Linked DNA regions of Homo sapiens. The protein of the gene in region 1 binds, or shares a complex with, the protein of each later gene. Each region holds a gene or a part of one and is shown on either strand. Other genes may lie near its edges.

Region 1 (15,583 bases):
GAGACCTGGCTTGGGAGGGGAGGGCCCAGGGCCGGGAGAGAGGCTTGCTGGGCCCTCACTGCTTTCTCCTTGTTTTTTTCTCAGATTTTGTATCTTGTTGGAAAAACTTTGTGTACAGTGATGATGAGCCATTCAAGCCTTGGAAGGGACTACAAACCAACTTTCGACTTCTGAAAAGAAGGCTACGGGAGATTCTCCAGTGAGGGGTCTCCCTGGGCCTCATGGTCTGTCTCTTCTAGCCTCCTGCTCATGCTGCACGGGCCTCCCCTCCATCCTGCACCAGCTGTGCTTTTGCCTGGTCATCCTGAGCCCCTCCTGGCCTCAGGGCCATTCCATAGTGCCCCCCTGCCTCACCACCTCCTCCCCGCTCTCCCAGGCTCTTCTTGTAGAGGCTCTCCATCCACCTCCCCAGTCCTGTTCCCCCAGCCTGGGTGCCCCTAACTTGACTCTTCCCATCTCCCCAGCATAACCAAATCTTTTTTTTTTTTTTTTTTTTTTGAGACGGAGTTTCACTCTGTCGCCCAGACTAGAGTGCAATGGCTGGATCTCAGCTCACTGCAAACTCTGCTTACTGGGTTCAAGTGATTCTCCTGTCTCAGCTTCTGAGTAGCTGGGATTACAGATGCCTGCCACCACGCCCAGCTAATTTTTTTTTTTTTTTTTTTTTTTTTTTGTATTTTTAGTAGTGACTGGGTTTCACCATGTTGGCCAGGCTGGTCTTGAACTCCTGACCTCAGGTGATCTGCCCATCTCTGTCTCCCAAAGTGCTGGGATTACGGGCGTGAGCCACCCGGCTCGGCCGCACAACCAAATCTTATTAAACTCAATCTAGTCTGGCCCTGGTGACTCACGCCTTTCGGAGGCAGAGGTGGGAGAATCGCTTGAGCCCAGAAGTTTGAGACCAGCCTGGGCCACACGACAAAGCCCCATTTCTACAAAAAAAAATACCAAAAAAAAGCCAGATGTGGTGGCATGCACCTGTAGTTTAAGCTACTTGGGAGGATGAAGTGGGAGGACTGCTTGAGCCGGGGAGGTGGAGGCTGGAGTAAACTGAGATCGCGCCACAGAACTCCAGTTTGAGCAACAGATCAAGACCCTGCCTGAAAATAAATCAATAAATACACTCAACCTAAATGGATATGAATATATGTAAGTTGAAAACCAGTTTTGAGAAACATCCTTTGTAAGTTTCATCCTACGAATTGGGTCATTCATGTCCTACGCAGCTAAAACAGAGGCCAGCAGCCAGGGAGGAAAAGCAGTCAGGCCACACACCATTGCTCCCAAAATGGACTTATCTGCAAGCCTGACTCCTGAAACTGTGCATTGTACCCTGAAACCAGCTTTATCCATAGCTTCTGCCATAAATGGCTGTAAGTCTTGGACTCCTTGCTCCAAACGCAGTGACTCAGCAATGGAACCTCCCAGCTCCCAACACTTCCTAGTGCCCATGGTGGGCTTTCCCACAGGGCAAGAGAACATTTCTCCTTTTTTTTTTTGAAGTGGAGTCTCGCCCTGTCACCCAGGCTGGAGTGCAATGGCGCAGTCTCCGCTCACTGCAACCTCCACCTCTGTTGTTCAAGTGATTCTCCTGTCTCAGCCTCCCGAGTAGCTGGGATTACAGGCGTGCACCACCACACCGGGCTAATTTTTGTATTTTCAGTAAAAACGGGTTTCATCATGTTGCCCATGCCAGGCTTATTTTTATTTTTTTCAGATGAAGTCTTGCTCTGTCACCCAGGCTGGAGTGCAGTGGTGCAACCTGGGCTCACTGCAACCTCTGCCACCCGGGTTCAAACTATTCTCCTGCCTCAGCCTCCCGAGTAGCTGGGATTACATGGGTGTGCCACCACGCCTGGCTAATTTTTGTATTTTTAGTAGAGATGGGGTTTCAGCATCTTGGCTAGGCTGGTCTTGAACTCCTGACCTGGTGATCCACCCGTCTCGGGCACCCAAAGTGCTGGGATTACAGGTGCGAGCCACCTGGCCAGGCTTAGGCTGGTCTTAAACTCCTGACCTCAAGTGATCCGACCTCCTTGGCCTCCCAAATTGCTGGGATTGCTGGTGTGAGCCACAGCGCCTAGCCCATTTCTCCTTTTTATAAAACCTGTTGCTGTCTCTGTTCTCCCAACATGGTGAACACCACCCAGACTGCGTGTATGTCCCAAATTCTTTCTTTGCAAATGAAATGTGAAATTAGAGGCTCTTCTCCACACTTTAAATTTGACTTGTCATTTTCTAGGCAGATGTAAGTTATTAGAGAATGAGATTCTCTATAAAAATGACCCCTTCATGCTGTGGCCTCCACAGAACATGCCCCAGGCCAGGTGCCCACACAGCAGGCATTTATTTCCTCACACATCTGGAGGCTCCAAGTCCAAGTTCGAGGGGTGGGTTGGGTTGTTTGCTCTGAGGCTGCTCCTCCTGGCTGGCAGGGAATCCCTTCTGGCTGTGTCCTCTGTGGCCTTTCCTCTGTGCACCTACCTGCACCTCTGGGGTATCTCTGCCTCCAAATATCATCTTTTTTTTTTTTTTTTTTTTTTGAGACAGAGTTTTACTCTCGTTGCCCAGGCTGGAGTGCAATGGCATAATCTTGGCTCACTGCAACCTCCACCTTCAGGGTTCAAGCGATTCTCCTGTCTCAGCCTCCTGAGTAGCTGGGACTACAGGCATGCGCCACCACGCCCGGCTAATTTTGTAGTTTTAGTAGAGGCGAGGTTTCTCCATGTTGCTCAGGCTGGTCTTGAACTCGTGAGCTCAGGTGATCCACCCTCCTCCACCTCCCAAAGTGCTGGGATTACAGGTATGAGCCACCGTACCCGGCCTTTTTGTTTTGTTTTGTTTTTGTTTTTGTTTTTGTCTTGAGACGGTGTTTTACTCTGTTGCCCAGGCTGGAGTGCAATGGCATGATCACTGCTCACTGCAACCTCCGCCTCCCAGGTTCAAGCAATTCTCTGGCCTCATCCTTCTGAGTAGCGGCGATTACAGGCGCCCAGAACCACTCTCTGCTAATTTCTGTATTTTTTAGTAGAGATGGGGTTTCACCATGTTGGCCAGGCTGGTCTCGAACTCCTGACTGCCCACCTCGGCCTCCCAAAGTGCTGGGATTAAAGGCATGAGCCAGGGCACTTGGCCACCCTTCTCCTTGATGGACCCCCGCCAAGTGAATTTGTGCCCACACTAGAGGTCTCGTTTAAATTAATCATCTTGGCCGGGCGTGGTGGCTCACGCCTGTAATCCTCCCACTTTGGGAGGCTGAGGCTGGCAGATCACTTGAGGTCAGGAGTTGGAAATATGCCTGGTCAACATGGTGAAACCCCGTCTCTACTAAAAATACAAAAAAATTAGCAGGGCGTGGTAGTGGATGCCAGTAATACCAGCTACTCGGGAGGCTGAGGCAGGAGAATCGCTGGAACCCGGGAGGCAGAGGTTGCAGTGAGCTGAGATCGTGCCATTGCACTCCAGCCTGGAAGACACAGTGACGCTGCATCTCAAAAAAAAAAAAATTAATTAATTAGTTAATCATCTGTTGGCTGGGTGCGGTGGCTCACGCCTGTAATCCCAGCACTTTGGGAGGCTGAGGTGGCGGAGTTGGAGGTCAGCCTGGCCAACATGGTGAAAACCCACCTCTACTGAAAGTGCAAAAAGTAGCTGGGCATGGTAGTGGGCACCTGTAATCCCAGCTACTCGGGAGGCTGAGGCTTGAATCACTTGAACCAGGGAGGCAGAGTTTGCAGTGAGCCGACACGGTGCCACTGCACTGCAGCTTGGGCGACAGAGTGAGACTCCATCTCCAAAAAAATTAATTAATTAATTAACTAATCATCTGTTGAAAAGGACCTGTCTCCAAATACAACCACACATTGAGGTAGAGGGGTTAGGGCTTCAGTATATTGATTTTTGGGAGAAACAGGGCAACATGGCAACAAGCCACAGTCACTGTGGGCGGGCCTGAGTGGGGAGTGCAGGGGTTCCTGTCCTGTGTGTCTGTCTCACAGGGGAGTCCTGACCTGACCCTCACAGCCCCTCCACCCAGACCTTCCTGCATGTTCCACCCAGCCCACCCTCCTGCACCCAAGAGCACCCAGCCCTCCCTTCTGCTCATGCCCCTCCCTTCTCAAATCCCTCCCAGCAGTGCAGCTCTGGGCTAGGACACAGCCTAGGGAACGTGACTGAGAAAGAGCCAAGAAAACTTGATCAGTGATCAAGTTGGTGTTTAAGTAAGATTTTCAATAAAAAGTAGAATTGGGTACTACATGGAGGCTTGAGATGCTCAGAGCTTTTCGAGAAAGCAGAACAGAAAGTAGAAGGGCAACCAGGAACCAGAGGTGCCAGAGAACTGGAAGCGCGGGCCCTCCGAGGAGACAGGGAGTGGGCACCTGGGTCTTGGGCCTGTCGACAAAAAGAGTCAAACTCTGTAAAATATTTGAAGAGACGTATTCTGAGCCAAATACGAGTGACCATGGCCCGTAACACAGGGCTCAGGAGGTCCTGAGAATGTGTGTGTGCTCAAGGTGGTGTGGGTGCGGCATGACTCCCCAGACCCCTTAGATAGGAATTTGGTTTTATATATTTTAGAGAAGCATCAGCTATCAATCAAACACATTTAAGAAATACAGAAGCTGAGCGTGGTGGCTCACGCCTGTAATCCCAGCATTCTGGGAGACTGAGGCAGATGGATCATGAGGTCGGGAATTCTAGACCAGCCTGGCCAACATGGTGAAACCCCGTCTCTACTAAAAATACAAAAAATTAGCCAGGTGTGGTGCTGGGCACCTGTAATCACAGCTACTCGGGAGACTGAGGCAGGAGAATCACTTGAACCCAGGAGGCAGAGGTTGCAGTGAGCCAAGATCACGCCACTGCACTCCAGTCTGGGCGACACAGCAAGACTCCGTCTCAAAAAAAAGAAAAGAAATACTTCGGATTGCTCCAGAAAGGTCGGACGGCTCAAAGTGAGGGCAGGAGTGCTGGGGGGCTTCCAGGCTACAGGTAAATTTAAACATTTTCTGGTTGACAATTGGTTGAGTTTGTCTAGAGACCTGGCATCCATAGAAAGGAAACGTTCAGGTTAAGATAAAAGATTGTGGAGATCAAGGTTCTTTTGAAGTCTCATAGTGGCTGCCCTTAGAGACAATAGATGACAAATGTTTCCCATTCAGGCCTTTAAAAGGTGCAATTAGTTCATCTGTTTAGGACCGGGAGGGCCTAGAAGAAAAAGATCCAGCTATGTTAATAGAGATTCTTTACAGATACAAATTTTGCCCCACAAAGGACAACTTTGCAGGGCCATTTCAAGATATGGCAAAGAAACATGTTTTGGGGTAAAATATTTTGTCTTTTTACTTTGTCACATAATGTTGTGCCTGAGTCAGATTGGAAAGTAACTCACAATATATAGGGTTAAATAAAACCCATGTGGGCCGGGCGCAGTGGCTCATGTCTGTAATCCCAGCACTTTGAGAGGCCTAGGTGGGTGGATCACCTGAGGTCAGCAGTTCAAGACCAGCCTGGCCAACATGGTGAAACCCTGTCTCTACTAAAAATACAAAAATTATCCAGGTGTGGTGGCGGGCACCTATAATCCCAGCTACTTGGGAGGCTGAGACAGGAGAATCGCTTGAACCCGGGAGGCGAAGGTTGCAGTGAGCCGAGACCACACCATTGCACTCCAGCCTGGGCAAGAAGAGTGAAACTCGGCCTCCATTAAAATACAATAGGAAAAAAAAAAAAAAAAATAGAACCCCTCTGATGAGGATGTACGGGTTGTAAGGCATGACTCCCCAGACCCCTTAGATAGGATTTTGGGCAAGATTAAATAAAAACAAATCAGAGCTTAGTCCAAAGGCCTATGAACTAAAAATAAAGTCTTTAGCCCCCACCGATCCCCCCCAACTTTGGCCCCCAGTGGCCAGGGGTATCTCAGAAAAACCTTAAAACTGAGTTCCCAGCCATGATGGGAGGGGAGGTCAGGCACGCCTCATTATCACCCCGCCCTTTTGCAGTTTAGACACAACTGACCAGCAGTAATGTTAAAACAGAATCATAAGATGGGCAGAACCAGAACAGACTCTTCATGGCAATCAGATACCAAATCACAACCAGGACCTCAGGCCGTGCCAGGCAAGGGTGAGATCACACACCCCACACTTAAACAGTCAACTCTGTTCTGCCTGCCCCAAGGTTTTTTTTTTTTTTTTTTTTTTGCTCTAGCAGCTAAACAAGCACTGCCTCCAGATAAAGATGAAAACAATCACAGCTCACCCAGCGCCCGGACGCGGAGCAACAGAGCCCCTGCTCCACAGCCCTAATTCCAGGTTTCCCTGGACAAGAGACTGATTTCAGTAACTTTCTCCAGATCGGAAGACCACGGACCACGGACTAGTTCTGAATGGTTTACAGACCTGGCAAATTTTGGTGCCTTCATGTCCTGAAAGGACCTTTTGACATACAGGCTTAATTGTGGTACATTTAAATGTTGTCTCCACCGCAATGTGAGGACGGATTATACGGTTGCTTTTTTTTTTTTTAGATTTTTGTTTGTTTGTTTTTTGTTTTGAGATGGAGTCTCACTCTGTCTCCCAGGCTGGAGGGCAGTGGCGCGATCTCGGCCCACTGCAACCTCTGCCTTCTGGGTTCAACTGATTCTCCTGCCTCAGCCTCCCGAGTAGCTGGGATTTCAGGCACGTGCCACCACACCCGGCTAATTTTTGTAGTTTTAGTAGAGACCAGGTCTCACCATGTTGGCCAGGTTGGTCTCGAACTCCTCACTGTCATGCGTGTCTGTATAGAAAACCACCTAAACAGGCTTTGTGTAAGCAATAACGCCATTTATTCACTTGGGTGCAAGTGGGCTGAGTCTGAAAAGAGAGTCAGCGAAGGGAGATAAGAGAGGGGCAGCTTTATAGGACTTGGGTAGGTGGTGGAAAGTTACAGTCGAAGGTGGTCATCTGTTGTCAGCAGGGGAGGGGGTCACCAGGTGCATGGTGGGAGACCATGAGACCCATTGTCCAGAAGAAGAATGTCATAAGGTCGATTGATCAGTTAGGGTAGGGCAGGAACAAGTCCTAATGGTGGAATGTCTTAAGGTTGGTTAATCAGTTAAGGGAGAAACTGGCTGTTTCACTTCTTTTGTGTTTTTTTGGCTGCTCCAGACTTCTTGGCTGCTGCAGGCCATCTGGATGTATATGTGCAGTTCACAGGGGTCACAATGGCTTAGCTCCGGCTCAGAGGCCTGACACTGACCTCAGATGATCCACCTGCCTCGGCCTCCCAAAATGCTGGGATTACAGGCGTGAGCCACTGTGCCTGCCTGGGATCATATGTTACACGCATGTTTGTTCAATAAGCATGGAGTGCAGCCACCCACATGAATATTCATAGCTCCTCCTATAGCCTGTTGAATATGTATGTTTAGCCAACCCCTTCAGCATAAAGCTCCTGCCCCAACCCCTCCTGCTTCTAAATGTCTGTCTCTGGTGTTTCCCAGAGGCTGCTCTTCCCAGGCTGCGGGATGGCTACCTTGCTGCCTGTCACCCTTAACAAGAAATAAAATCTCCTTTCCAAATTTATACATTGTGGCCAGGCGCGGTGGCTCACACCTGTAATCCCGGCACTTTGGTACGCCAAGGCGGGCGGATCTCCTCAGATCGGGAGTTCGAGATCAGCTGACCAACATGGAGAAACCCTGTCTCTACTAAAAATACAAAAATTAGCCAGGCATAGTGGTGGGCGGCTGTAAGCCTGACCAACATGGAGAAACACTGTCTCTACTAAGAATACAAAAATTAGCCTAGGCGTAGGGGTGGGTGCCTGTAATCGCAGTTACATGGGAGGCTGAGGCAGGAGAATCTTTTGAACCTGGGAGGCAAAGGTTGCGGTGAGCTGAGATTACGCCACTGTACTCCAGCCTGGGTAACAGAGCAAGTCTCCGTCTCAAAACAAACAAACAAACAAAAAAACACAAAAAAACAAAAGCAAACAAAAAAACCAAATGCATCCCTTGTGTAATTTTTAGGTCACCGCGCCATGGGAACACGCTACCAGGGGAAGGGAGCTGTGAGACGCGCAGGGAGGCTCCAGACAGGCTGGCCTGGGACACCAGCCACTGCTCTTCCATGACATGGGGACAAGAGGAGGCGAGAGCTCAGCCCACCAGGGAGGAACTCCGGGCAGGAGATGGGGAAGAAGGAGAAGCAGGAAGGAAAGAGCTCAGTGTGGGGGCGCGCATGGCATCCCGGTGGGACATCTGAGGCCCACACCCACCTGCTGTCCCTCCCTCCCACGGTGGCCTCCGAGGGTGAAGGCCTGGGGAGAGGCAGACACCTGGCCCTTTACTCTCCCTCCCTGTCCCCATGGCCGCTGGGTGGGGGCCGTCTCTGGGATGATCCCCGAGGGCAGGATCCGGGAGTCCCTGCGGAGGCATCAGCCTGTCTGTCTTGATGGTGGAGAGGAGGCTCCAGCTGGGCGGGACCACCAGGGGAGGGGCTTGTGCTCTGCTGGCTCAGCCTGGTGTGGACCCACCTCGCGGGCGCTGGCTGCAATGACTTTCTCTTTCCCTTTGCAATTGCCTTGGGTCCTGCCGCACAGAGCGGCCTGTCTTTATCAGAGGTCCCTCTGCCAGGGGGAGGGCCCCAGAGAAAACCAGAAAGAGGGTGAGAGACTGAGGAAGATAAAGCGTCCCAGGGCCTCCTACACCAGCGCCTGAGCAGGAAGGGGGAGGGGCCATGACTACGAGGCCCTGGGAGGTCACTTTAGGGAGGGCTGTCCTGAAACCTGGAGCCTGGAGCAGAAAGTGAAACCCTGGTGCTCCAGACAAAGATCTTAGTCGGGACTAGCCGGCCAAGGATGAAGCCTCACTTCAGGTACCGCTGCCCGCTCTACCCGCTGGGCCCCTCTGCTGCCCCTTCCTGCCTGGTGGCTCTGCTGGGCGTCAGCCCTGGCCTCCCCCTGCCCCAGCCCCAGCCCTGGGCTCCCTCCCCTCTGGCTCCCCTGCCCCCGCCACTCCCAGCCAGGCTCTTTTTCCTGCTCTGTGGTTGCCCCACTGCTGCTTCTGAATAGGCCGCTTCCCCACCTGCCCCAGCCCAGGTGCCCTGCTGAGACTCTCCCCCGCCACCGAAAGTCATGGCAGGGCTGGTGCTCCCGGCCCTGGGAGGGTGCTCCCTCTGTGTTCTTTCCGCCATTCCTGAACTCTGGAACTGGGAGAATTGAACCAAAGGATGATTAGAGCAATGTGGAATTTTGTTCACAGTGCTTTGATGGATTTTCTGTAACATTTACTTTGCTTAAATAGCAAGTCTTAGGAGAGGGTGTGGGGAGGGAATGGTCTCTGAAGCACAAGATAAATCGTATCTTCCAAGGATGTCTCCACTGTGGGCAGAGGAGGATGCAGATGACCCCAAACACACGCTCCTCCTCCACTATCAGCATTCACTGTTTATAAATGACACGAGTAACATGGAATATAGTGGCCGGGTGCGGTGGCTCACACCTGTCATCCCAGCACTTTGGTAGGCTGAGGTGGGTGGATTGCCTGAGGTCGGGAGTTCGAGACCATCCTGATCAACATGGATAAACCCTGTCTCTACTAAAAATACAAAATTAGCCGGGTGTGGTGGCGGGCGCCTATAATCCAGCTACTCCACAGGCTGAGACAGGAGAATCGCTTGAACCCAGGAGGCGGAGGTTGCAGTGAGCCGAGATCGCCCCATCGCACTCCAGCCTGGGCAACAAGAGCCAAATTTCGTCTCAAAAGAAAAAAAAACAAAAACAAAAAACATGGAATATATGGGAAAAAAACTCAATGATCAGGAGAAATGCTATTATTTTAAAATTTAGTAAGAAGAGAGTCTGGTCCCCAATGGCTCCCTCCTGCAAGGCTGGTGACACAGAGACTGGACAGGGCTGGTCTGGTAAGAGGCCCCAGCCCCATCCGTCCCCAGCTCTGTGGCCTGGGCAGGTTACCCCATCTCTCTGCGCCTCTGGCACCTCCTCTGTAAGATGGGAATGGCCCGTGCGGGCCTAGGGCAGCCTCACATGAGCTCACATCCGCGCAGCACTTAGAAGAGTGGCCTGGGCCTCAGAATTCGGTTCTACCATGATTTAACAATAGTAATATACAGAGGTGAAATGTCAGAAGGAACTGGCTGAAAGGTTAAAATCTATTATTTTGGGGTGAATAGTTTTATTCTCTCTCTCTTTTTTTTTTTTTTTTTTGAGATGGAGTTTCGCTCTTGTAGCCCAGGCTGGAGTGCAGTGGCACGATCTCGGCTCACTACAACCTCCGCCTCCCAGGTTCAAGCGATTCTCCTGCCTCAGCCTCCACAGTGGCTGGGATTACAGGCACCCACTACCACGCTTGGCTAATTTTTATATTTTTAGTAGAGACTGGGTTTCACCATGTTGGTGAGACTGGTCTCAAACTCCTGACCTCAAGTGATGGGCCTACCTCGGCCTCCCAAAGTGCTGGGATTACAGGCATGAGCCATAATGTCCAGCCAAGAACTTTGTTCTCTTTTGCATTTTACTAATGCGTTGGAGAATGGGTGGGAGAAATACTGGGAAGGTGGGGAATGTACTCCTGGAACGACCAGAGCTGGACCCTGAGCTGGAAGAGGTCAGCCTGCCCCTGCTGCCCATGCCAGCATCCCCTTTTCTTGCTCTCTCCCCGGTCTTCCTGCCTGGGAAGGAAGCAAAAATTCTCAGGGCTGTGGAGGGGTTGGGGAGGCCCAGAGCCATGCAGGGGGCTGTGTTTAGTGGACATCAGCCCTGAGGGCTCCCGGGAGCGCTCTCTACATTGGCTGGTTTCTCTCTTGTGTCTTCAGAAACACAGTGGAGCGAATGTATCGAGACACATTCTCCTACAACTTTTATAATAGACCCATCCTTTCTCGTCGGAATACCGTCTGGCTGTGCTACGAAGTGAAAACAAAGGGTCCCTCAAGGCCCCGTTTGGACGCAAAGATCTTTCGAGGCCAGGTACCACCCGGACTTCAATCACTTTGCAGGCAGGAGCTAAGCCAGCTGGGAAAGCAAACCACGCACTGATAAGTGAAGTGCCCGGCGGCGGGCTATCCAGTGTGTCCTTCTCTCCCACACTTTCCAAGTCCGTGGCCCTGACCTTCCTGCTGGACCGTCCTGGGATCGGATCGTGGAGGGGGTTTGCCTTTGCACAAAAGGCCTTGTGTTTTTTTTTTTTTTTTTTTGAGACAGAGTTTCACTCTTGTTGCTCAGGCTGGAGTGCAATGACGCGATCTCGGCTCACAGCAACCTCTGCCTCCTGGGTTCAAGCGATGCTGTCGCCTAAGACTCCCGAGTAGCTGGGATTACAGGTGCCCACCACCACGCCCAGCTAATTTTTTTTTTTTTTGTATTTTTAGTAGAGACAGGATTTTACCATATTCACCAGGCTGGTCTCGAACTTCTGACCTCAGGTGATCCACCTGCCTCGGCCTCCCAAAGTGTTGGGATTACAGGTGTGAGCCACAGCGCCGGCCTAATTTTAATATTTAATTAATCCAATGTGGCTAACATATTACTTCAACATTAATTAACATAAAATTCTTGACAAGATAATGAAGTTTCTTTTTGTCACACTGAGTCTTTGAAATGAGCTGTGTAGGCCACGCTTGGTGGGTGGCTCGCGCCTGTAATCCCAGCACTTTGGGAGGCCGAGGTGGGTGGATCACCTGAGGTTAGATGTTTGAAAACCAGCTTGGCCAACATGGTGAAATCCCGTCTCTACTAAAAATACAAAAAAAAAATTAGCCCGGTGTGGTGGCAGTCGCCTGTAATCCCAGCTACTTGGGAGGCTGAGGCAGGAGAACCGCTTGAACCCATGAGGCAGAGGTTGTAGTGAGCCGAGATTGCATCATTGCACTCCAGCCTGGGCAACAAGAGTGAAACTACGTCTCAAAACAAAAACAAAAAACAAAAAAAGATAAATGAGCGGTGTATGGTGTATTTTTCAGGTGCCCAGGTCTTTCATCAGAGCCCCATTTCAAGTGCTCAGTAGCCCCTTTGGCCAGTGCGCCCCACCACATGGGACAGCGCAGGTCCAGTGGCCTCCCCAGCTGACCGCAGGCAGGGAACAAGGCAGACCCTAGAGGGCCAGGCCACAGCAGGGGCTGAGGATGCCTGGTGAATGGATGCCTGGGAGAATGGATGCCAGAATTCACGCATGAGGCTCTGAACAGGGCTGGGAAAACTTCCAAACGAAGGGAAGCTCATGTCTTGGTGCACTTTGTGATGATGCTTCAACAGCAGGACTGAGATGGGGACATTTACAATAAACAGAAATGTATGGGCTCGAGTTCTGGCCTCTGGGAAGTCCACTGTCAATGCACCAGCAACTTTCCAGGGCCTGCGAGCTGCACAGTCACGTGGGGGTAAAGGTTGTTGCCAGAAGTTCAGGGGATGCTCCAGACAGAGTGGCCTGGGATGTCGAGTCACTGCTGCTCCATGCCACGGGGACAAGAGGAAGCAGTTTAGTCTGACATACTGCCCCCCCAGCTAGAGGGCAAGAGACAGAAAGAGGGGCTGAAGTCGCCCTTGAATAAACACGCCAGTAGCACCCACAAAGGTGCAGCCCCCACAGCCTCATAGCCTCTTCTAGGTGCCACCTCTTAAGGCCATTACAATAGCCATTAACACTGAACGTGAGCTTTGGAGCAGACAATCACTCAAACTAAACAGGGGGGATGGAGGAAAGGAGCTTCAATGGCAAGATCCCCTGGGCTCCTGTCCTGGCCCCTCCTCTCCCTGCCCCACCCCTGCACTCCTCCTGCTCCCCCTCTCAGAGCATCCCCTGCCCCCTGCTCCTCTCCCAGGTGTATTCCCAGCCTGAGCACCACGCAGAAATGTGCTTCCTCTCTTGGTTCTGTGGCAACCAGCTGCCTGCTTACAAGTGTTTCCAGATCACCTGGTTTGTATCCTGGACCCCCTGCCCGGACTGTGTGGCGAAGCTGGCCGAATTCCTGGCTGAGCACCCCAATGTCACCCTGACCATCTCCGCCGCCCGCCTCTACTACTACTGGGAAAGAGATTACCGAAGGGCGCTCTGCAGGCTGAGTCAGGCAGGGGCCCGCGTGAAGATTATGGACGATGAAGGTGAGAGGTGGAGGGGTCAGGGGAGCGTGAGCGGGAGGAACAGCATGAAAGATGGATGGATCTGCAATGCCATGGCTGGGGGTGTCCCAGGGCAGCCTGCAGGGGCGGGGCCAGCACTGACAGCAACTGACAGCCAGGAGACCAGGCCTGGGAGCGCGGGCCCAGGGTCAGGGCAGAGCCTGACTGCTTCCTGCCTCTTCGTCTCAGAATTTGCATACTGCTGGGAAAACTTTGTGTACAGTGAAGGTCAGCCATTCATGCCTTGGTACAAATTCGATGACAATTATGCATTCCTGCACCGCACGCTAAAGGAGATTCTCAGGTGAGGGTCTCCCTCTGGCCTCATCGTCTGTCTCCTCTCGCCTCCTGCTCATCCTCCTGAGGCCTCCCCTGGCCAGGCCCTCCTGCCCTCCGTCCTGCCCCCTGCCTGCCCTCATGGTTACACCCCTCACCCACACTCCTTGTGCTCCTTCCCCTTCTTGCCTCCTCCCTCTTTCCTGGGCCCCTCCTATGAGTGAGAGGCCCCTTCTGCCTCCAGAGCAACCTCCATCCACCTTCGAGGCCGCCCTCCCCACAGCCTGGGATCCCCAACCTGGCTCCTTCCATCTCCCTGGCATAATCGAATTTGTCATAAAACTGGACGTAAGTGGGCATGAATATTCACAAGGCCGACAGCCAGAAGCTTTGAGCAACATCCTTCAAGGCCGACCTGAGTCCCTGAGAAGGAGCAGCCTCTGTGGAAACTTCAGGCTTCGACTGCCATAGAAGATGCCCCCGGGCCGGGTGCCCACAGGGCAGGCATTTATTTTCTCACAGATCTGGAGGCTGCAAGTCCAAGGTGGAGGGGTGGGCGGGGTTGTGTCTTCTGCAGCTGCTCCTCTTGGCTGGCAGGGGGTCCCTTCCAGCCCTGTCCTCTCTGGCCTTTCCTCTGTGCACCTGCACCCCTGGGGTCTCTCTGCCTCTAAATGTCCTCCTCGTTTATGGACCCCAGTCAGACAGGATTAGGGCCCACCCTAAGGGCCATGAGTTAATTTAATCACCACTTTAGTGGACCTGTCTCCAAATACAGTTATCCTGTGAGGAGGTGGGGATGAGGGTTTCAACATATCAATGTGGGGAAGATACAATTTAGTCCATGACAATGGGTCAAGCTTGCGTGGGGCATGCAGGGGTCCCTGTTCTGTGTGTCTGTCTCCCAGGCGAGTCCTGCCCTGACTCTCACAGCCCCTCCCTCCAGACCTTGCTGCACCCTGGGCCCCACCCCATGGCTTCCCCACCCAACAGCACCCAGCCCGGCCTCTGCTCACGCCTGTCCCTTCTCAAATCTGCCCCCAACAGGGATGGAGATGCAGAAAGAGCCAAACAAACACTCAGTGATCAAGGTCCCAATTGAATAAGATTTTTTTTTTTTTTTTGAGACACTGTCTCCCTCTGTCGCCCAGGCTGGAGTGCTATGGTGCGATCTCGGCTCACTGCAATCTCTACCTCCTGGTTCTAGCAATTCTCTTGTCTCAGCCTCCCAAGTACCTGGGATTACAGGCTCATGCCACCACACTGGCTAATTTTTGTATTTTTAGTAGAGACGGGGTTTTGCAATGTTGGCCAGGTGTTGAGTAAGATTTTGCAAAAGAGTAGGCTTGGATAATGGGAGGCTTGAGATGCCAGGAGCTCTCCAGGAAGCACAATAGAAAAAGGCAACCAGAGACCAGAGAGGCCATAGAAAGGGATCTAAGGCCCTCGGGAGAGACGGGAACTGAGCACCTGGGTCTTAGACCGGAGGAGCAAACTGCAAGACAGGGTGGCCGGGGACACCAGCCTCCACCCTTCTGTGACATAGGGACAAGAGCTCAGCCTGCCAGGGAACAACTCTGGGCAGGAGATGTGGAAGGAAGGAGCTCAGTGTGGGGGCACGCATGGCATCCTGGGGGGACATCTGAGGGCACCCCCACCCGCTATTCCTCCCTCCAATGGTGGCCTTTGAATGTGAAGGCAAGGGGGAAGCAGACACCTGCCCCTCACTCTCCCTCCCTACCACATAGCTACCGGGTGGGGGGCGTCCCTGGGATGATTCCTGAGGGCAGGATCCAGGAGTCCCTCTGGAGGTCCTCCCATCCAGGTGAGAAAGCAGCATAAAGTGAGACCTGCACTCAGATGGGCCTGTGAGGTCACTCACAGCGCAGGTGTCTCCTGGAACAAGGGCCCTGGAAGATAAAATAGAACCCAAGCCCAGGACTACCATCAGGGCCAGGACAAGCCTGCCAGGGAGGGTGCACATGAAGCCCCAGATCAGGGACCACTGCCCGCTCTGCCCACGGGGCCTCTGCTGCCCCTTCCTGCCTGGTGGCCCTGCTGGGCCTCAGCCTGGCCTCCCCCTGCCCCTGCCCCAGCGCTAGTCTCTCTCCCCTCTGGTTCCTCTGCTGCTCCCACTACCAGCCAGGCTCTTTGCCCTGCTATGTGGTCGCCCCTTTACAGCTTC
Region 2 (14,630 bases), on another chromosome or scaffold:
CAAATTTATTTTTAAAGAATATTTTGATATTTTAAGTGAAAGCTTTTTAGAGTTGTAATAGTGAGAAGATACTGGTTAAATTTATCAGGAGCTCCTGAATATTTGGTCATTAGTGCATGTTATGAAAGAGAGTCTCAAGCTTTTAGCCCACTTGCAAATTTCTTGAGTAATTGTAGTATTTATATGATTGAAGTGCATAAGACATACTTTTAGGTTTTGGCACTGAGTGGTATAATAAAAGAATTCATTAGCTGGTGCGATGATCGTGTCATCCTTTGCCTGGGTTACCTTTTGCAAAGGGAAGGTGGTATACCTGACGATAGAATTTCCTGGAGGTAAAGGATGCAAGTATAAAAGATAAGTTACAAAGTACTTGTACTCTCACTGTTTGCTTTTTTGTTTTGAGACGGAGTCTCGCTCTGTTACCCAGGCTGGAAGCACAGCAGCATGATCTTGGCTCGCTGCAACCTTCGCCTCCTGGGTTAAAGCGATTCTCCTGCCTCAGCCTCCTGAGTAGCTGGGATTACAGGCACACACCACCACGCCCGGCTAATTTTTTTGTATTTTTAGTAGAGACGGGGTTTCACCATCTTGGCCAGGCTTGTTTTGAACTCCTGACCTTAAGTAATCCTCCCACCTCGGCCTTCCAAAGTGCTGGGATTACAGGTGTGAGCCACCGCGTCTGGTCTTGTTTCGTTTTTTTTTTTTAAGAGAGAGGTCTTGCTGTGTGGCCTAGGCTGGGGTGCAGTGGCTGTTCACAGGCACAATCATGAGGCACTACAGCCTCAAACTTCTGGGCTCAAGCGATCCTCTTGCCTCAGCCTCCCAATAGCTGGGACTACAGGCTCGGCGTCACCATACGCAGCCCCATGTGTTGTATTATCATCACTATCTTTGAAAGCTGAATTTTTTTGGAAATTTGGTGAATCATAGCTAGTAGGGTGTTTTCTGTCATCTCAGACTTTGCTGAATGGAATTATGAATTCAACCCATAGGATATCTGAAATGCTGTAATATTATAGTAGTAGTACAGGTGGTTAGTGTTTGTCATGAATTTATTTCCAGGATGAATTAGACATTCTAGACCTTCCCCGCTTCCAAATAATCTGATCCTCACCTGAGCCCGGGAGGTCGAGGCTGCAGTTAGCCATGATCGTACCACTGCACTCCAGCCTGGGTGACAGAGTGAGACCCGGTCTCCAAAAATAAAACAAGTATCTGATTCGACACATTTTACAAGTTTTAAATTTCTGAGAAGTATTAAAGGTTAAAGAAGGTAGATTGAATGCTGTGTGAGGTTTGCACTTAAGACGGCTCATGTCTTATTTTGTTAAATAATGTAACTATTGGTATTTGGAGAGGAATTTCACGTTTCCTAGTTTTCTCTCTTTCTAGTTTCCCTCCTTTAATTCAGTGTTAACCCACATTTAATTACAGGATCCTTAGCTCCTAGAGGGTAGAGACCTCATTAATTTTGTATAAACCCCTCTGGATACAGCTATTTTTCACAATACCTTTTATATCAGAGGTACTTGATTATTTGAATTTAGAGGCTGCTTAATTTAATGCCTGAAATTTATCTCATGACTTATGAACAGGCTGGGTTTCTTCCTATTTGGCTGTGGAAAAAGGCATTATTTTGCCTGTTTTGACAGCAGCCATAAATGGCAAGGATATCCATAGTTCTCAAAACTATTCCCAACCTTTCTCCTGCCCCAGTTGTCCTCTTCTTATTTGGAACATCTTCTTGATGTATCAGTGAGGTTAATGAAGAATTCATTTTGCTGTTGCCCAGGCTGGAGTGCAGTGGCATGATCTTGGCTCAGTGCAACCTCCGTCCCCCATGTTCAAGTGATTGTCTTGACCCAGCCTCCTGAGTAGCTGGAATTACAGGCGTATACCACCATGCCCAGCTAATTTTTGTATTTTTAGTAGAGACGGAGTTTCACCATGTTTGCCAGGCTGGTCTCAAACTCCTGACCTCAGGTGATCCACCGACCTCGGCCTCCCAAAGTGCTGGGATTACAGGCGTGAGCCACCACTCCCAGCCTCATTTTGCATTTAGATGTGAAATAATTTAAGGGCTGTGTTGATCATCTCTCTTTAACTATAAAACTCAATCAGCCTCCTTATTTTATGCCAATTGAGTTTTTAACTGTAAAACCCAATCAGCATTAAATAAAAGTGAACACAGGTCGAAGAATCTGTAGTAGAATCTGATTTATTCTTTTTTGAGACTGGATCTTACTCTGTCACTCTGGCTGGAGTGCAGTGGTGCCATCTCCGTTCACTGCAACCTCCACCTCCTGCTTCAGCCTCCTGACTTGCTGGGATTACAGGCGCCTGCCACCACGCCTGGCTGGTTTTTGTATTTTTAGTAGAGATGGGTTTCACCATGTTGGCCAGGCTGGTCTCCAACTGCTGGCCTCAAGTGATGTGCCTGCCTCAGTGAGCCACTGCACCCAGCCTTGATTTATTCTTATCAATTCTTTTTTTTTTTTTTTTGAGACGGAGTCTTGCTCTGTCGCCCAGGCTGGAGTGCAGTGGCACGATCTCGGCTCACTGCAAGCTCCGCCTCCTGGGTTCACGCCATTCTCCCGCTTCAGCCTCCCGAGTAACTGGGACTACAGTCGCCTGCCACCACACCCGGCTAATTTGTTTTTGTATTTTTAGTAGAGACAGAGTTTCACCGTTGTTTTTTTTTTTTTTTTTTTTGAGACGGCGTCTTGCACTGTCGGCTAGGCTGGAGTGCAATGGCACGATCTTGGCTCTCGGCTCACTGCAACCTCTGCCTCCTGGGTTCACACGATTCTCCTGCCTCAGCCTCCCGAGTAGCTAGGATTACAGGCGCACACCACCACACCCGGCTAATTTTTTGTATTTTTAGTAGAGGTGGGGTTTCACTATATTGGCCAGACTGGTGTTAAACTTCTGACTTCGTGATCTGCCTGTGTTGGCCTCCCAAAGTGCTGGGATTACAGGCTTGAGCCACTGCACCCGGCCTATTCTTACCAATTCTTATGTAGTTAAGAATGTTGGAGACGTCTTCAACACTAATAATCAAATAAAGAAAAAATATTTATAAGAAGTATGGTTACTCTGTGGTGAGAAGAGTAAAAACTAATACATATTTCTAATTCTAAAGATTGAATGGTAAAAAGTATGTTGGATTGGCACAAGGTGTGCTATTTTATAATTTGTGAAACCTACAAAGCATAAGACAACCTGGAAATCTTAAATATAGGCGTCATACTAGTGTAGCATTTTAATGTTTTCATTTTGTTTATTTTCGTCTTTATTTTCCTATGACGATGTTGACACCATATTAATATTTTGGAACAGACTTTTTCCAACTCTTACCTATATGTAGGTATTTCATTAAAAGAATTCCATGGTCACATAAGTTTGGAAAATGTTATTCTAGAATGATCTGTGTTTACCACTTCTGTCTCAGAGAGGGATCTTTATGAGATAATGGACATATAGTGATGAAGCAGGAAATCTCTTCTGAGGTTGGCATCAAGACAGGAGATGAGGTAATACGATCTGCAGAGTGTCTTAGCACAGAACTGATTTGGGGTACACTGGAGGTGGAAGGATTTGCTACTACGTGAATACTGAAGAAACAAGCCACAGGGATTTTGACACGGGGCAGTCGTTCATGGGCTGTGTCTTTTCTGCCACCACTCTGCTCTGAGAATTTCATTATCTGAAGCTGAAAAAGTTGGCTTTCTTGTTGAGCTTAAAGTTATTTATCATATTATTCAGCAGACACTTTCATAGCATTTACTTGGTACTGTTTTAAGCACTTTACAAATAATTGATTTGTGAGAAAACTGAATTATGCTTCAGGTCGTACAGCCTGGGCAGTTTCCCTCCCAGAAACTTTTTTTTTTTTTAACTAGTGTTGGGGGGTTTTTTGTTAAGATTTATGCTCGTAGTACATGGGAAGTTTTTTTTGTTTTTTGTTTTTGTGATGGAGTCTCGCCTTGTTGTCCAGGCTGGAGCACAGTGGTGCAATCTCGGCTGACTGCATGCAACCTCTGCCTCCCAGGTTCAAGTGATTCTCCTGCCTCATCCTCCCAAGTAGCTGGGATTACAGGCGTCTGCCACCATGCCCAGCTAATTTTTTGTATTTTTAGTAGAGACAGGGTTTCACCATGTTGGCCAGGCTGGTCTTGTACTCCTGACCTCAGATGGTCTACCTGCCTTGCCTCCCAAAGGGCTGGGATTACGAGTGTGAACCACTGCTCCTGGCCTGAAAGATTTTTTAAAATGATGTTGTAATATTGATGTTAGTTCAGTTTCTATGGATATAAAACATTTACCACATGAAAATGGTACCCCAGTTGATTAGGGAAATGCCATCAGAGAGGTTTAGAGATTTAGCATTTAGGTTGACAAGTGTACCGACAGTGCCAGTAATAGAAATAGGAAGTATAATTTTTACCTCTAAAGAATCTAAGCTGTTAACCATCAGGGGAACTATTGGATAGCTAACTTGGTTGATGGCTTTAAACAAATTGCCCCAAATGTGAACCTCTTGATTTGAGATGAAGACTCTATGCATGGAAACCAATTATGCTTCAGAACTTAATTAGTAGAATAAACCAAACAAAAAACTTTTTCTGGTTTCAGCAAAGAAGAGTTTACATTTAGATGATGAAAAATGTATTTTTTCAAAAATGCTTTTACTTCTTTTTTTCTTAATTTCCTTTGGGAAAGGGGTAATGTCTTTGTTTTTTGCCTGAGGGAAATATAGAGGTAACTTGCTCAAGGCCTACATAAAATGACACTTTATTGAAGTGGTTTTAGATTGTTGCATCTGTTGAGCTCTAACATCCAAATCTTTTATATTTATAAATCTAATCTATAAATATTTATTAGATGAATACTTTTCTCTTTGTTGTAGTCAGACCAAGTTCTCCTAAAGTCAAATGTGAGAAAAGACATATTTTTAAAAATCATCTAGGGTTTTAGAGAGTACTGTCACATCCCATGCCAATGTATGGTTTATCAGAGGAGAGACAATTCCAAGTGCATTTTTTATGTACTGCCTGCTATGCAGTGTTTCAGCAAGGGAAATCAAGGAAAATTAAAGTGTCTCATTTATACAATTTTAAATTGTGGTATTCTTTAAAATTCAAAATCTTTAGATTTTGAGTGATTTTTACATTTAAAAATAGAAGTTTTTAAATGCAGAGATGGATAGTGGCTTCTGGTTAGACATTAGCAGTGTGAGATCCTAACGTCAGCAAAAAATGACCTGAAAGAAAGTATTGATTCCATGTCTGATTTTATACTTAAGCAGCCAATGGCAAATGTCCTCAAAATGGAATCAGATGTTTGTAACTTAATACTTAAGAAAAATGATGAGTGCATGTTTTTTTTTACTTTTAAGTATTCTCTGTGCTGCCTGGCTTAAGACATAAACTGATGTAAAAATAAATGACTGCTTGCATAATTTATGTAATGTCCTGCTCCTGATCCTGTTTGTATTGATTTTTCTAAAAGGCTTTTGTGGCCACAGGAACCAATCTGTCTCTCCAGTTTTTTCCGGCCAGCTGGCAGGGAGAACAGCGACAAACACCTAGCCGAGAGTATGTCGACTTAGAAAGAGAAGCAGGCAAGGTAGGAAACATTTCTTTGCAATTTAAAATACTGTGGGTTGTTTTGTTAGAGATTATCTGGTAATTTACATTTTAATAAAGATCACAGATCTGATTATACCAGCATATGCTCAGATTTGTTTTCATTCCATGTTATAAGGATGTAATATAATTTTTTTTTTTTAATGGCGTTTCGCTCTTGTTGCCCAGGCTGGAGTGCAGTGGCGTGATGTTGGTTCACTGCAATCTCCGCCTTCCAGTTTCAAGCGATTCTCCTGCCTCAGCCTCCTGAGTAGCTGGGATTACAGGTACCCGCCACCACATCTGACTAATTTTTGTATTTTTAGTGGAGATGGGGTTTCACCATGTTGGCCAGGCTGGTCTCGAACTCCTGACCTTGTGATCCGCCCACCTCTGCCTCCCAAAGTGTTGGGATTACAGGCGTGAGCCACTGTGCCCGGCCAATATAATTTTTTAAAACCACTGTTAAACTTTTGTATCACTCCATTCCTAATTTCATGTACATAATATTTGTCATAGAACATTCTAACCCTTAAGGAAAGTAACATAACAATTTCTTTAAAAGTTTGAGGAGATATATTTTGTTTACAAAAATATATGTAAGTATAGTGCTATAAAAATAAAACAAGAGGAAAACGGAAAAAAGCTCTCTAGGTTTAAAAATTAATAGTATTTAGAAATAGCTCATAGGTAACTTTCTAATTCCATTAACAGCAAATTTACATTTGAGAAAAACAATGTGAAAACTTTAACTTGGAAATACTTTTTTTTTGTTTTGAGAAAAAGTTTCTGGGAACATGTCTTACAGTTTCGATGTTAGAAGTTTAGGTTAAAGATACAAAAATATAGGTAAAATGTTTAAGCTGAGAGCCTTATTTCAGGTCTACGTTAAATGTATTATGATTTTGGTAATTTTTTTTTTTTTTTTTTTGAGATGGAGTCTCCCTCTGTTGCCCAGGCTGGAGTGCAGTGGTGTGATCTTGGCTCACAGCAACCTCCACCTCCTGGGTTTTAAGCTATTCTCCTGCCTCAGCCTCCTGAGTAGCTGGGATTACAGGTGTGCGCCACCACGCCTGGCTAATTTTTTTGTATTTTTAGTAGAGACAGGGTTTCCCCATATTGGTCAGGCTGGTCTTGAACTCCTGACCATGTGATCCACCTGCCTCTGCCTCCCAAAGTGGTGGGATTATAGGAGTGAGCTACTGCACCTGGCCTGGTAAATTTTAATGAATAGCATCTTGGATTGGTTGATTCTTGATTGAGAAGTCAAGGAGTTGACTTCTAGAATAAAATTTTTAAAGAAGAAACCCTCTTTTAAATATAGTTTTATACTCAAAACACCCTTTTGGATCCAGTTTCATACTTTTTTTGTGTGTGTTTGTTTTGCAGTGTGTTTTTGTACCCGTTTCTATCAACTTACTAAATTAATTTTCTAAGTGTCATCATGAATAGCATAACCTGCCACATTTATGTAAAATGTGAGAAATGTCTAAATATTCCTTTGAGAAATATTTAATTTAATCTTGTGTGTATATATATATATACACGTATATATGTGTATATATACGTATATGTGTGTGTATATATGTATATATGTGTGTGTATATACGTATATGTGTGTATGTATATACATATATATGTATATATAAAATGAATTTTTTGTTTTCTCCAATTCTGTAGAATTAGATTTGATCTTTTGTGCGTGACAAAACAATCTTTGGATTAGAAAAGGGAAAACAGATTATAAGATTTAAAAAAATGAGTACTAAGCAAGCAGTTTGCTTTCCTGTGTATTAGCTTGTTTGCTTGGAAAATTAAAAGTGAATGTTCCAGATTTTACTATTTGGTAATTCTTACACAATATATAAGGAAGAATTTGAGAAGTCCTTGTACGATTATTGGTTTTTTTGTGCTTCTGGTGCGTGTATGTGTGACTAAATGAAGAAATTATTTTTTTTCTTGTTTGAATACTTCCTTAAAGTTTGTTTAACATGGTAGCTCAGATACTAAAGACGTAAACCAAAAAAAAAAAAAATTTGTTTTTTGTCAGCTTTAGCCCAAAACTATTTTAAGACTTCAAGGGCAACATCTCAGTGTTACTGAAGTCTTCCGGTATTTAATAACTAGTAAATGGGTTGTTAACTCTACCAGAAATTAAGTTTGCTTGAATTAATTTAATGATACTGCTTCACTAGTGTGAAGACCACATAATCCTTGGACTTAAACCATTGAGATGTTTTTAGTTATATGACCAAAAATAACAAAAATGTGAGATGGTTTATTCTAGTACAGTCATGTGTCACTTAATGGTAGGGATATGTTCTGGGAAATGTGTTGCTGGGTGATTTTTATCATTGTGTATATATAGAGTGTACTTACACAGATCTAGATGGTATAGCCTACTACACACTTAGGCTATCTGGTATAGTCTGTTGCTCCTAGGCTACAAACCTGTACTGTACAGCATGTTACCGTACTGAATACTGTAGTCAACTGTAACACAATTTGGTAAGTATTTGTGTATCTTGATGTATCTAAACATAGAAAAGATATGGTAAAAATACAGTATTTAAAAAATGGTATACCTGTATAGGGCACTTACTTTGAATGGAGCTTGCAGGACTGGAAGTTGCTCTGGGTCAGTCAGTTGAGTAAGTGGTGAATGAATGTGATTCTGTAGATTATATAAACATAGTATGCTTAGGCCGCACTAAATCTATAAAAATTAAGCAATTGCACTGCAATGTTAAAATGGCTATGATGTCACTAGGCAATAGGAATTTTTCAGATTCATTATAATCTTACAAGACCACTGTCATATATGTGATCCATTTTAGGCTGTAACGTTGTTAAAGCAATACATGAATGTATTAAAAAGATATGTTTTTAATTCTATTAGGAAGAGTGATAGAACTATGCAGGCTATCAGGAAATGTACATTTTATTAATACTGGTTTTAGAAGTTTTTTTTTCTGTGAAGGGACAAATGTAAATGTTTTCAGTTTTGCAGGCTTTCAGTCTCTGTCACAACTACTCATCTCTGTAACTCTGCTGTTGTGGTGTGAAAGGGACCCTAGACAATATGTAAACAATTGAGTGTGGCTGTGTTCCATAAATGGTGACACTGGTAGAAATCAGTATCTTTCCCTCAGATGTAAATCTGTAAATGTTTATGCATAGGTCATGTATTTCTCAGATAGAATTTTGTCAACATCTGTACTACTTCTGTACTACTTTTTTTCTAGAAGAAAAAAAAGCATTTTAAGGCAAAAACTCGTACTGTACTGTTCCGTGCCACTGTAATAAAGTTCTCCAGTGAATTTAGAGAAAAGGCATTGCCCTGTGTTTTCTCATCCGTGGAGCTCAGACTGTGGGGTCTCGAATTTCTTTTCTCTTTTTATGGTCTGTTTTATTATAACCATTAGGTTTTGTTTCTGTCCCCACAGGACTAGGACTGGAAGCAAAGAAAATTGAAGGAACTTCTCCAAATGTTAATTATTTGCCTCTGTTCCTTATATTGGATTCCAAATCAGTGTCTTCTTCCATATTCTCTCAACTGAGTTACCTTCTGAAGCAGCTTAGTTCTCGTCCTGTTCATACGCAGTTTTGAGGAACTATAGTTGTAAAGGCTTTAGAGTTAGGCAAAATTGAGTTAAGTTCTGGCTTCTGCATTTACTACAGTGTAACTTTGGGCATGTTGTTTAATCATTGTAATCCTTAGTTGTAGAATGAGATTAATGGGTACTTCCCAGGGTTGCTGTTGAGAGTAACTGAAATAGTGTATGTAAAGTGTTTTGACCACTACTGTACCTGTCACAGTTATCAAAAAATTTATTCATTCAGAAGGTCTTTGTTGAACACCTGTTACGTGTACTGAGCATTGTCCTAGGTATTTGAGATACATCAGTGAACAGAGATCCTTAACAGACAATATACATAATAAGTTATGTAATAGCTTACAAAGTGACAGTACCTTTGGGAAAAAGGAAAGGTATTATAGGATAAAGATGATCAATGAACAGGAAGTTTGCAGTTTTAAATTGAGTGGTCTGGGTAAGGAAGATCATACCTGAACCAAGACACAAAGGAGGTTAGGGAATGATGAGCCCTGCAGGGGTTGGGGGTGGAGGAGAGATGTTCCGGACAAAGGAAACAGCCATTATAAAGGGCCCCAGAGTGGCACCCTGTTTTTGATCAACAGCAAGCAGGCCATTGTGGCTGGAGTAGACTGTGAAAGAAGTTGTAGTAGATGAAATCAGAAATAACAATGAGCCAGTTCATGTGACCATGGTAGGCCATTGTAACCACATGGGCTTTTTATTCTGAGTGAGATGGGGAATAGTTTTGAGTGTTTAGTTTGCTTATATTTTAGGGACAGGGTCTTGGTATGTTGCCCAGGGTGACTCAAACTCCTGGACTCAAGTTATGCTCTTGGTCAGCTTCCGAAGTAGCTGGGAGTAAAGGCATGCTCCTGCACCTAGCTCAGGCTTTTGAGCAGATGAATGATATTATCTACGTTAGGTTTTGACAGACTCATGCTAGCTGCTAGGTTAATAATAGGTTATAGGGGGCAAAAGTGAAGCAGGCTATTGCAGTAATCTTGGTGAGAGACCAGGGTGGTAGCAGTAGAGGTAGTGAGAAATGGTCATATCCTGGATGTATTTTGAGATAGAGCCAATAGGATTTGCTTATGGATTAGATATGGCGTGTGAGAAAGAGAAGAATAAAGAATGACTCTAACTTAGGCTGAGGCAGGAGAATTGCTTGAACCCGGGAAGGGGAGGTTGCAGTGAGCTGAGATCGTGCCACTGCACTCCAGCCTGGGCAACAAGAGTGAAACTCCATCTCAAAAAAAAAAGAATGACTCCAACTTTTTGGCTAGAGAAACTGGGACTATGGGGTTACTGTCATCGGGATGGGAAAACTGGCTGGAACAATTTTGAACAGCAGGTTAGGTTGGTTTAGCGCATGTGAGGTTGTGGTGGGAGCTTGTTATTGCAGCTTGTTTCTTTACTTTTTTTTTTTTTTTTTTTTTTAAGAGAGAGGGTCTCACTCTGTCACCCAGGCTGGAGTGCAGTGGTGCAATCATAGTTCACTGTAACCTCAAACCTCAAACTCCTAGGCTCAAGAGATCCTCCTGCCCTTCTTTTTTTTTTTTTTTTTACCCCTGACAAAACAAGGTCTTATTCTGTTGCCAGGCTGGAGTACAGTGGCGCCGTCATGGCTCACTGCAGCCTCAATGTCCCAAGCTCAGGTGATCTTCCCACCTCAGCCTCCTGTGTAGCTGGGACCACAGCATCTCACCTGTAACCCCAGCACCACCATGCCTGAAGTTATTTTTGTATTTTTTGTGGAGATGGGGTTCTGTTATATTGCCTAGGTTGGTCTCGACCTCCTGACCTCAAGTGATCCTCCTGCCTTGGCCTCCCAAAGTGCTGGGATTACAGGCATGAGCCACCACGCCCAGGCTTTTTAAAAAATCATTTGTTTCTAAGTGTTTCATTATTTTTTCTGCCTCTGTCTCTTGACTGACTAGGACGACAGATATTTGCCACCACATCTGGCTAATTTTAAATTTTTTTGAAGAGAAAAAAATTTTGCTCAGGCTGGCCTCTAACTCCTGGCCTTAAGCAATCCTCCCACCTTGGCCTCCCAAAGTACTGGAATTACAGGCATGGGACACTGCATCCAGCCTGAGTTTTAACAAATGTATGCACCCATGTAGATGCTACCACAGTCAAGATATATTTCAGTCACCCCCCCAAAGGTTTCCTTGTGCCCCTTTGCAGGAACCTGGGACTGACTGCACTGGGTGGTTCTGCCTCAGTGTCTCTCATGAGGTTGCAGTCAAGCTTTTGCCTGGGACTGTGCAGTCTCTGAAGACTTGACTAGAACTGAAGGATCTGCCTGTTGGTAGGTGGCTTCACTTCCTAGTCATGCTTCTCCATAGAGAGAAAAAGAGTGAAGCCACCATGCCTTTTATTTATTTATTTATTTATTTGAGACGGGGTCTTGCTCTGTCATCCAGGCTGGAGTGCAGTGGCGTAATCTCAGCTCTACAACCTCTGCCTGCCGGGTTCAAGCAATTCTCCTTCCTCAGCCTCTCAAGTAGCTGGGATTACAGGCACATGCCACCACATGTGGCTAATTTTTGTACTTTTAGTAGAGACAGGGTTTCACCATGTTGGCCAGGCTGGTCTCAAACTCCTAACATCAGGTGATCTGCCTGCCTCAGCCTCCCAAAGTGCTGGGATTACAGGTGTGAGCCACTGCGCCTGGTCCACCATGCCTTTTATGATCCATTCTTCAAGTCACTTTCATACCTTTTATGATCTATTATTTGAGTCACTTGTTGCTTAGCCTGTTCATTAGAAGCTGGTCACTAAGTCTAGCCCACATTCAACAGGGAGGGAGGGATTACACAGGGGTGTGAATACCAGGAGGCTGGGATCATTGAGGCCATCTTGGAGGCCAGCTACAATAATACTCACTTAAATTTAGCGAACTCAGAAAAAATTAGAATCCTAATAGAGCGGAAACAAAAAGCTCTATATTCTCTATTATTTGAAATACAGTTTTATGATTTAAGAAAATGGGCTCATAGAAATTAGTCCTTTTATTCATTCTGTTGCTTATGTGGCTATAGAATATTTTCAAATCAAGGGCTTCTATAAGGAAGGTCTGTTAACGGGTGACTGATTATAAGTATATACCTTACATATGACCAAGTCAGAGCACAGAATTTTATAATCCTTCAAATATATTTGAAACTTTTATACCCAGGTACCTGGTGAGCTGTCTACATTGGCTCTTAATAAGGATCTTTCTCAGAAATGATTTAAACTAATAACAGTATAATAGAAAGAGCTCTAGATTTGAGTCAAGACAGTCATAACTATTTTCCTTAACATGTAAATGAGGATCAGAATGTCTGCCCTATTCATGTGCCTCATGTGAGAATTAAATGTAGTACCAGAATATGTGAAAATGCCTTTTAAATTGTAAACCCCTGTCTACAGTTAGGCAATTTGATGGTTCTGTAGGGTGAGATTATAGCTAACTGATTGATAGAGTGTTTGTGCTACAGTGTGCCTTAGGTAAGCTTCACGTCAGGTAGTTGAACAATGTTGGAACACTACATCTTTCCCAAGTGTTCCATCCTGGTGTGTTACAAACACTGGCAGCCAAAATGTTCTTAATTCTTTAATCTAGCTGTCAAAAGACAAGGGAAAAGCAACTAATCAGAATTTAAATCATTCTTAAGTTAAAATTGTGTAGACCAGGCAACTCCAGTTCCTTTGATCTTTCCTCTTAGGACTTATTTCCAATTACTTTTATTTCAAATAAATGCAAGTGATTATGGTTGACCATAAATTATTAGTCTTGAGTGGTCAGATTAATGGTTTTTACATGTATTCTGTGTCTCATAAAGCTTCATTGGGATTTTGAAATAATGATTGGATGTACTTACTTTGCGATCCCAGTTTATGACTTTAAAGATAAGGGGTATGAAAATCATTTCATAAAAGGAAAAAAATGAACTTTACAGTGCTACTGTTCATTTTTTTCTGTGGAAATTGAATATGCTATCTCGTTTTTACCACATTGACCTCAGAAAAAGAGAGGTTAAACTTTTCTATGGTTGTTACATTCTTGTTTATAGCTTATGATTTTAATTGATAGTCAAATACATTAATGTCAGACATCGAGAAGTATTTATTAAGTATATGTCATTAGAGTAGCTACTTTTAAAAATTTTGATAAGTTGTATTTTTTTTCTTTCTGGACTTTATACTTAAAAGTCTTTTAATTTATTTTTATGAGCATAAAATAAAGCAAAATCTAACAAGATTGGATTTAATGAGTGAGGACAGAATTTTATTTTAAATGGCCTTTTCTAATAAAGGTCTATGATTCTGCTTCTTCTGGTACCATTTACGCACTTGCCTGCAGGATCTTTGTCCCAAAATACATATTGTGTTTGTTTATATACCATCCACAATTTGGCAGAGTTTACAGGACTTCTTGATGTTAGCTTTGAGAAATCCCTATTTAAGCTCAAGAAGTTCCTTCTCTGTAGATAGCCCAGTCATTCCAAATAAAAGATCTCTATGGTAAAGCTTTGGAGTGTGATTTTCTTCAAGAGAAATTAGACAACTTTACAAATACCTTGTCACATCTGGATTTTAAGTATTTCAGTTCGACTAAAATATGAATTGACAGCACTTAGTTATTGACAGTTTAGTGTATTGAAATCTGGTTTTTAAAAATATGCTTTAGATAAACTATAATACTCTAATAATAACGGAATCATAAAATTTAGAACTGGTAACTGCAAGCTTATATATATATATATATTTGACACCTTTGTAGCTGGCAGAGCGTTTGTATTTTTAAAGAAAAGTTTTTATTTTAGTTATTTTAGTTATTTTTCAATCTAAGAGAGGAAGTCGACTTTCTGAAAAAATTAAAATGTTTTGGCTAGGTGGGGTGGTTCATGCCTGTAATCCCAGCACTTTGGGAGGCCGAGGCAGGTGGATCACCTGAGGTCAGGAGTTCGAGACCAGACTGGCCAACGTGATGAAACCCCACCTCTACTAAAAATACAAAAAATTAGCCAGGTATGCTGGCATGTGCCTGTAATCCCAGCTACTTGGGAGACTGAGGCAGGAGAATTGCTTGAACCCGGGAGGCGGAGGTTGCAGTGGGCTGAGATTGTACCACAACACTCCAGCCTGGGCAACAGAGCAAGACTCTGTCTGAAAAAAAAAAAATTAAAATGTTTTAAAATTAGTATGTCATAGTACCTTCCAGTTAGAGTACGTGAATCTGCATACATGGTAAATGCACCTCTGAAGCACTTGAAGATTGTGAAGTCCCGTTTTCTCTTCTTTTGGATTGCATTATTTCCATTTTAGTGTAAAGGTGAAATTCTCTTTCATGACCTTTCCTGAATTACATATTCCAAGTGAGAGAAGGCAGAAATAATATGTCTGAGAA

Evidence for each region.
Region 2: the proteins of APOBEC3F (region 1) and CBFB are in contact, whole or in part, in a cryo-EM structure (PDB 6NIL), measured with the Homo sapiens proteins. Residues at the interface, in NP_660341.2 of Homo sapiens: Glu289, Leu291, Ala292, Arg293, His294, Ser295, Asn296, Glu324; in NP_001746.1 of Homo sapiens: Phe32, Asp34, Arg35, Arg43, Glu54.

The regions. Positions count from the first base shown.
Region 1 is NC_000022.11:39,032,114-39,047,696, forward strand, and holds the start of APOBEC3F (DNA dC->dU-editing enzyme APOBEC-3F), read left to right. Parts: upstream 1-8,750; 5' UTR 8,751-8,847; coding exon 8,848-8,864; intron 8,865-10,823; coding exon 10,824-10,977; intron 10,978-11,969; coding exon of another isoform or gene 11,970-12,104; exon of another isoform or gene 12,105-12,310; intron 12,311-12,827; coding exon 12,828-13,107; coding exon of another isoform or gene 13,108-13,314; coding exon 13,315-13,429; intron 13,430-13,645; coding exon of another isoform or gene 13,646-13,763; exon of another isoform or gene 13,764-15,583. Other genes in the region: APOBEC3D (DNA dC->dU-editing enzyme APOBEC-3D), read left to right, coding at 85-203.
Region 2 is NC_000016.10:67,031,125-67,045,754, forward strand, and holds part of CBFB (core-binding factor subunit beta), read left to right. Parts: intron 1-5,514; coding exon 5,515-5,631; intron 5,632-14,630. UniProt on the Homo sapiens protein: Forms the heterodimeric complex core-binding factor (CBF) with RUNX family proteins (RUNX1, RUNX2, and RUNX3).